Regions from separate parts of the Homo sapiens genome. Here region 2 is linked to region 1. Evidence: fine-mapped expression QTL. Tissue or cell type: cerebellum. Region 1 holds a variant in brackets; the other region holds the start of a gene. All regions are shown on one strand. Distances are between the middles of the regions.

Region 1 (4,239 bases):
ATTGAACATGGGACGTGATGTGCATAATCAGCTCTTGGGAACCTTCAGGTGTGGGCTACAGCACCTCACTGGACCGCTGGGTTCCTAGTAGAGTGGAGGAAGTGTTCACTTAGCCACAACTTTGCTTCACCCTGGAGGCCAACTGAGGCATGTTAGTATACCCTCTCCCTGTAGTTCTGGAGTGAGGACATTGGAAAGCTAAACAGTGGTGCTTGATTCAAGGTGCTTGATCTAATTTCTGTGGCCTTTGTCTGAAGAGGGAGGAATAAGAACGTGTCAACCTGGAATTCCCAGACTGGCTGATTGGGTCACATTTGGAAAGCTGCTGTGTGCACATCTGATTATCCTGCACCTAGGACTATGATTCATTTCTTCTTTCTCAGAACGTGTATCAGTTTGTTATATTGATTAGCCTGATTGTCTGAATAGTGTCTTTCTGTGTCAAATCTATGAAAGTTTGAACCCTATATGCTTTTGCTGAATACTGTATTTCCAATACCTAGTAATTATACCTAGACTGACACATAGTGGGAATTTTTTTCTTCAAGTTTAAGTGAAAATTTATTTATTTTTTTAAATCTCCAAAAGCTTCCCATTGTTTATTATTATTTTTATTTTATTTATTTATTTTTTAATTTTTAAATTTTTTTATTATTATACTTTAAGTTCTAGGGTACATGTGCACAACGTGCACGTTTGTTACATATGTGTACACGTGCCATGTTGGTGTGCTGCACCCATTAACTCGTCATTTACATTAGGTATATCTCCTAATGCTATCCCTCCCCCCTCCCCCCACCCCACGACAGGCCCCGGTGTGTGATGTTCCCCTTCCTGTGTCCAGGTGTTCTCATGGTTCAATTCCCACCTATGAGTGAGAACATGCGGTGTTTGGTTTTTTGTCCTTGCAATAGTTTGCTGAGAATGATGGTTTCCAGCTTCATCCATGTCCCTACAAAGGACATGAACTCACCCTTTTTTATGGCTGCATGGTATTCCATGGTGTACATGTGTCACATTTTCTTTATCCAGTCTATCGTTGATGGACATTTGGGTTGGTTCCAAGTCTTTGCTATTGTGAATAGTGCCGCAATAAACATACGTGTGCATGTGTCTTTATTAGCAGCATGATTTATAATCCTTTGGGTATATACCCAGTAATGGGATGGCTGGGTCAAATGGTATTACCTTTTATCTTAAGGAATAGAAGAGCGATTATGAGCATAGGCCTGGGATGCAAGAAACACATTCAAATCCCAGCTCTGCCACTTACTGTGTGGCCTTACACAAAATCGTGTGTGTGTGTGTCTGTGTGTATGTGTGAATTGACGGAGCTAATGTATGTAATGTGCCTCACCCACTGCTTTACATTCAGTAGATGCTCAAAAACATTGTAGCCATGGGCCGGGTGCAGTGGCTCACACCTGTAATCCTAGCACTTTGGGAGGCTGAGGTGGGTGGATTGCTTGTGGCCAGGAGTTTGAGACCAGCCTGGCCAACATGATGAAACCCTGTCTCTATTAAAAATACAAAAATTAGCCAGGCACAGTGATGTGTGCCTGTAGTCCCAGCTACTTGGGAGGCTGAGGCAGGAGAATTGCTTGAGCCTGGGAGGCGGAGGTTTCAGTGAGCTGAGATTGCCCCACTGCACTCCAGACTGGGCCACAGAGCAAGATGCTGTCTCAAAAAAAAAATGTAGCTATGTACACTTCAAAGTACACAAACACACAAATGCACATGCTGATGATGCTCAGTGTGTCTTCTTCCAGCAGCAAGTACTCAGATGACTTTCCTTGTTTGCCCTGCTGGCCCATCCCTGCTTGGGGGAGATACTTCACTTGGTCTGTCTCCATGTGATCTTTGAAGGCAGGTGTCTGAGCCTCAGCTCCCATGTGCCTGCTCCTCTCCAGTCCCTTCCCTTGTCTTCCCCAGTTGTTTAGCATCTTCTTTACCTCCAGTGTTCCTGCCAACATTGGTCCCTGGCTCATTGTCTGGTCTGAAGCTTATCATGGATCTGAATGTGATGGTTCTCCCACAGCTCGCTCTGTCATCCCTGCTGTGTTTTCCCTTATGGTGGCTGAGTGGTCCACTGCCATCCTGCATGGCACCCCCAGCCTCACCTGCTCCTGCCAGTGCTTGTGGTGGGACTTGAGCTGGAGCTGCAGCTGGAGGGCTCCAGCTTGCCATAGCTGCCCACTGTCCTTTCTAAATGTATTATTATTGCCTTGGCTAGGCCTCTCCTTTTCCTGGGACAGCAATCTGAGGTTTTCTTGGTCTTGAGGCCATATAGAGACCTTGATTGCCAGACTCTGACTCCCTGGGGAGTGCTTTCTTAAGTTTATAGCTTGGCCCATTCTGGAATGATGCTGTAGTCTTCCTCTAAAGCCTGCCTCCCACTTTCTCTGAGCCTTCCCTTGCTCCTGAAACAGAACGATTACACTGTTCTGATGTCCTTACTTTCTTATTTCTCACCTTTCCCTGTGCATTCTCTCTCAACCCTGTGGCAGCCCTCTGACCTCCTTGCATTTCTGGCGAAGGTCT[A/G]TGCATGGCATTGCCTTCCTGCCTGCCACTCCGTTTGTCTCTCCTAATTACTGGGATTCTGTTTATACAGACTTCTCACTTTGGCTCTTTGGTTTTTTAAAAGTGATTTCTGCTTCAATTCAGCACTTTACCATTTCTCCTTCTCCTCTTTGTTATTTACTTCTGCAAATGGGATTATTAATTTTACTCTTTGAAACTTTTGGCTTTGTCCTCCCCTGATATGGCTTGGCTCTGTCCCCACCCAAATGTCATCTTGAATTGTAGCTCCCATAATTCCCATGTGTTGTGGGAAGGACCCAGTGAAAGACAATTGAATCATGGGGGCAGTTTCCCCCATACTGTTCTCATGATGGTGAGTAAGTCTCACGAGATCTGATGATTTTATAAGGGGTTTCCCTTTTCACTTGGCTCTCTCATTCTCTCTTGTCTGCTGCCATAAAAGATGTCCTTTGCTCTTCCACCATGATTGTGAGGCCTCCCCAGCCATGTGGAGCTGTGAGTCCATTAAACCTCTTTTTTTTTTTTTTTATAAATTACACAGTCTTGGGTATGTCTTTATTAGCAGCATGAGAACAGACTAATACATCCCCTGAGAGAGGCTTTTCTCTTATTGTCTTTCCAGATGACCCAGCCCCATTTGTCTTATGAAGGGTGAATAAGACTCCTTTTCTCTTCTTTTAAAAATTTATTTTTATTGATATGTATATTAGATATACATACTTTTGGGGTACAGGTGATAATTTGGTACATTCATGTAGTCAAATCACAGTAATTGGGACATCCAATACCTTTGTTAAAAACTTCAGTGGAAATAAATTTAAAGGAGTTTAATCAAACAATGAATGATTCATGAATCAGGCAACCCCCAGAATCACAGCATATTCAGAGAGACTCCAGGGGTGCCTTGTGGTCAGAACAAATTTATAAAAAGGGAAGTGAGGTACAGAAATAAGAAGTGAGGTATAGAAACAGCTGGATTGGTTACAGTTGGTGTTTAACTTAGTCCATGAGTAGTTTAACTTAGTCCATGAGTAGATGAAGTGTGGCCACTGGGATTGGCCAAGACTCAGCTATTGTTACAGGTGCATACTCCTAAGTTAGGTTTTCAATCTTGCCTGCCTATTAAGCTGGGTTACATTTTGTCCACAATCACTCATATATAGAAGTATGGAGTCCTTCTCAGGCCATATTTAATTTGCTTTAACACCTTAAATATTTATCTTCCTTTAAGCGAGGAACATTCAAATTATTCTCTTCTAGCTATTTGGAAATATACAATTGATTAATGTTAACTATAGTCACACTGCTGATGTATCGAATACTAGATCTTATTTTTTCCATCTAAGTCTATATTTGTACCCATCAATCAACTTCTCTTCATGCCCCTCTCCCTGTACCCTTCCTGGCCTCTGGGACATCCTTTCTCTTAGTTGGTGTTGTTGTTGGACTGATCACTCTGTCCTGACCTGGTAGGACTTTGCTCATTCCCCATCTCCTCTCCTCAGGAGAACACATGCCACACTCATCTTACTGGAGTCTGTGGATTCCTTAAAACAGCCTGGGAGATCTGGAGGGGTAGCAACTATTATTACTGGTTTTTAGTTAGGAAAATGAGACTTAGCAAGGAGGAAACAGGCCTAGGAAGGGAAACTCACGCTCCAAGCTCATGCAGCCAGTAAGGGAAGAACTGGGAAAGAA
Region 2 (4,239 bases), 23 kb before region 1:
GAGTGCAACCTTTGTAACTTCACTTCAGCCTCTGATTGGTTGCTTTCCACAACCAATCAGACTAATTGTGGCACCACTTCATTTACATGGGGTGAACGCCAAGTGGCCAATGGGAAACCTCTAGGAGGTATTTGGACCCCAGAAGATTCTACAGCAGGGGCTCTTGAGCCCATATGCAGGGGCCTGCTCCCACCTTGTGGAATGCACTTTTGTTTTCAATAAATCTCTGCTTTTGTTGCTTCATTCTTTCTTTACTTGCTTTGCTTGTGCCTTTTGTCTAATTCTTTGTTCAAAATGACAAGAACAGGCCGGGTGCGGTGGCTCATGCCTATAATCCCAGCACTTTGGGAAGCTGAGGTGGGTGGATCACCTGAGGTCAGGAGTTCCAGACCAGCCCGGCCAACGTGGCGAAACCCCGTCTCTACTAAAAATAACAAAAAAAATTAGTGGGACGTGGTGGCGCACACCTGTAATCCCAGCTACTTGGGGGGCTGAGGCAGGAGAATCGCTTGAACCCAGGAGGCAGAGGTTGCAGTGAGCTGAGATCGTGCCATTGCACTCCAGCCTGGGCAACAGAGCCAGACTCTGTTTCAAAAAATAAATAAATAAATAAATAAATAAATAAATAAAGGCAAGAACCTGGACACCCTCCACCCGTAAACAGCCAAGACTGTGCCACAGCACTCCAGCCTGGGCGACTGACTGAGACTCTGTCTCAAAAAAATTAAAATAAAACAACAAAAGTATGAACCAAAAAAACCACCTCTGTGGGCTGGATGTGGCCTTGGGGGTACCAGTTTGCAGACCCTGTGTCAAGCGGCCTAGGACCCAATCTGTATCCTTTGTTAACTGTCACCGATACTGACCTCAGACCTGGACCACTGGGATCCTGCCCTGAACCCCGTGCTTTAGTTGGCCCACTCCAGCTGGAGCGTATGTTCCCTTCTAGATCATGCTCCTGGTACCCTGGACTCCGGAAATCCCTGTGTAAACAGCCCTGAGCCTGCTTCCAAGGTCTGACTTCCATCCACCCAGGGCAGCCTGCCCTGCCTGGCCTGAGTATCGTTAGAATGAAGGATGGCAGGGTAGGGGGTGTGTGTTTGCCTGAACCAGTAGACCCCCTTCAGTATGTATGGGATGGAGTCGTGTGGGAATAGAAGCAGCAAGACTACTAGCAAGGGCTCTGCATTTGTACTCTTGCCCCTGGCTAGGCAGTCGCCAGGGGTGGGCCTGCTTCTCACTGACCCGTGGGTCAGGCTGTAAATAAGAGCGACCCTCGATTCACTCTTTACCCTGGGCCAGGCAGTCCGATGCATCCTGCATCCCATCATTCCTAATACCAACTCTGAGGATGCTGACAAGCAGCAGCCCCGTTTTACAGACCGAGGCACAAAGGCTGAACTAAGTTGTCCATAGCTAGTGAGTGGCAGAGGCAGGGTTTCAATGGGACAGTCCGTGGCGGAGCACACTGGCTCCGCCGCCAGCCCCCCTGCGGTACCCATCCGCGCTCGCCGCCTGGGACCGCCAGCCCGGGGCGGGGCGCAGGCAGGGACCCTCCGCTCCCCTCTCCGTCTGCCGCCCGGACGGGCCACCGCGGGGGCGCGAGGAAGGGGTGTTGGGTCGCCAGGGCCCGCCTCCCAGCTGCCCCGGCCGCCGGGGGGCCTGGCGGTGACGGCGGCGCCTGGCGGCGGGGATTTGGCGCGGGCCGGGGGCCGGGGGCCGGGGCGCGGGGGCGCGAGGCTGGATTCCTAGGGCCGCGGCGCTTCCCGGCATGCTCCGCTGCAGGCCCGCGCCCGCGCCCGGACTTTGCCATCGGCGGGGCAGTCGCGGGATGCGCCCGGGAGCCACAGCCTGAGGTGGGTGAGCCCCGCCGGGCCGGGCGGGCCGCGGCGAGTCGGGGAAGGGGACGCGGGGGCGCGGGGCCTGGCCCGGCTGCCGGGGAGAGGGGAGGCGGGTGCCGCAGCTTTGTTCTTGCCGCGGGGCCGCGCGCCCGAAGTTGGGGAAAGGAGTAGGAGCCGCGCCCCGGAGCGCTCCGGGGCCCGTGCGGCGCGTCCCGGGCGGGCTGGGGGTCCCTCCCTCCCGGGGACAGAGTGGGCGTCCTGGGTGGACGAGCACGGGGAAGCGGGTAGGGTCTTGGGTCTGTTCTGTCCTTGTGGTTCTGGAACCGGAGGGGAAGGGGGAAAGTAAGGGAGAGAGAAAGAGACGGAGAAAAACAGGAAAACTTACTCTTCAGTACGCAGGGAAGAATAGAGAAAGAAAAACACAAAGAAACGCCACGCAGACTGCAGAGAAGGACCACGAACACACGCTCCGAGAAACACACTCAGCTCACACGCACTGAGAAGCACACTTAAGATAAACACTCAGGTCACACACACAAGCACACTAAGAAACATTCAGTTCACACACACTCAGAAACACACGCACTCAGAAGCACACAAGATAAACACTCAGCTCACACACAGAAGCACACTCAGAAACATTCAGTTCACACACACTCAGAAACACACGCACTCAGAGGCACACAAGATAAACACTCAGCTCACACACAGAAGCACACTCAAACATTCAGTTCACACACACTCAGAAACACACTCCGAGAAACAGTTCACACTCGCTCAGAAGCACACTCAGCTCACACACACAAGCACACTCGGAGAAACATTCAGCTCACACACACTCAGAAACATACTCTGAGAAACACAATCAGCTCACACCCACTCAAGCACACTCAAGATAAACAGCTCACACAAGCACATTCAGAAAACACTCAGAAACATAGCTAACACTCAGAAACACACTCTGAGAAACACAGCTCACACACTCAGAAGCACACTCTGAGAAACAGCTCACACACACAGAAACAGAAAAACAGCTCACGCACACTAACACAAACACACACGGAGAAACACACTTAGAAGCACACTCAGCTCACACACACCCAGAGAAACACGATCAGAGAAACACTCAGAACGCACAGGAAGAGAGAGGAAACCAAGTGGGTGGTCTTGGAGGCCTGGGGACCGGGGGAGGGGAAGGAGAGACACTGAGAAGCGGGAGACGGGAGCAGCAGAGGGAAAGATGCCTGGAAAGAGAAACAGAGATAAAGGCAGACATAAGAGGAGGCAGAAAACACAAAGGCCAAAAGGAGGTGGTTAAAAGGACAGTAAAGAGAAACACACACGTAGAGAAACAGAGGCGGACCCTGAGAATTACCCCCCTCCCCCACCTACCTCTCACAAAATCAGCGACACACACAGAAGAGGCAGATGCCAGCCTTCTCCTTCTTGTGGTCCAGTGAGCTCGAGATGGGAGAGCAGCTCTGTGAGCCCTTTGAGAAAGGCTTCCTTGGCACTTTAAGCCAGGCATGTCCCAACCTTGTCTACCTGGCAAACTCCTGCTCATCCTTCAAAACCCAGCTCTAGCCTCACCACTCCTGTGAAAGTGTCAGTTCCCAGAAAGTGTCATGCAAGCACAGTTACTCTCTTTTCTGTGTTCTTCTGCAGGAAGCACAGGCACATGGAGTTGAAGTGGTTTGTCACCTGTCTGCCTCTCCCACCAACTCCTTAAGATCAGGGTCTCTGTCCTATCTATCTCCAATCTCCAGTGCATGATGCATAGTAGATGATCAATAAATACTTAGTGAATGGTGACCGAGAGCGTTTGGACCCTCCGAGACATGGAGGATAGAATTAAGTGCAAATAGAGGAAAAGCACCCTCCTGGTATTCTAAGGACTCCTAAGTCAGAGTGTCTTTTTTTCACGTGGGGAAATTAAAGCCCAGAGAGGGGAGAATGCTTGCACAAAGAGAGACAAGCAGGAGGCCTACAATGAAATAACAGTGAATATGTACTTCTGTGAGATGCCCTTGTTCTTCTGGCTTATGAGTTTAAAATAGGTGTGAAAGACCCCGTTCTTCAGTTCCTCTCTCCAGAGGCAGCTACTGTTATCAAGTTACATTTTATGTGTGTTTGTGCCTATCGATGTGTTCATACTAAAAAAATTCTGTGCACTAGTATATACAAATGCACGGACTTCTTTCATTCTTCTTTTGTACACAAATAAAAGAATTCTATGAGAAAAAGAAATAGATGTGAAACAGTCTCCTGAGTGAAAACTGGCAAGAGGCAATGGACACTTTAATGCCAGTTCTAAGTTTCCAACACTGAAACTGGCAATTAGAACTCTTTCCAGAACCTTTACAGTCTTCTTTCTTCCTTAGAAAGGAAAAGTAGAGTG

The links. PIP is the estimated chance that this variant, and not a neighbour inherited with it, causes the effect.
Region 2: it holds the start of TMEM98, and the variant in region 1 is the best candidate, but not a certain one, in a credible set for the expression of TMEM98 in cerebellum (GTEx, PIP 0.82).

The regions. Positions count from the first base shown.
Region 1 is chr17:32,949,775-32,954,013 of GRCh38, forward strand. No RefSeq gene overlaps it. Among named protein-coding and RNA genes, the nearest start is that of TMEM98, 24 kb to the left of the region's middle. The variant A/G (reference allele first, on the strand shown) is at 2,542.
Region 2 is chr17:32,926,382-32,930,620 of GRCh38, forward strand. It overlaps TMEM98 (transmembrane protein 98), which reads left to right and starts at 1,772. Exons shown (of 8, transcript NM_015544.3): 1 at 1,772-1,856.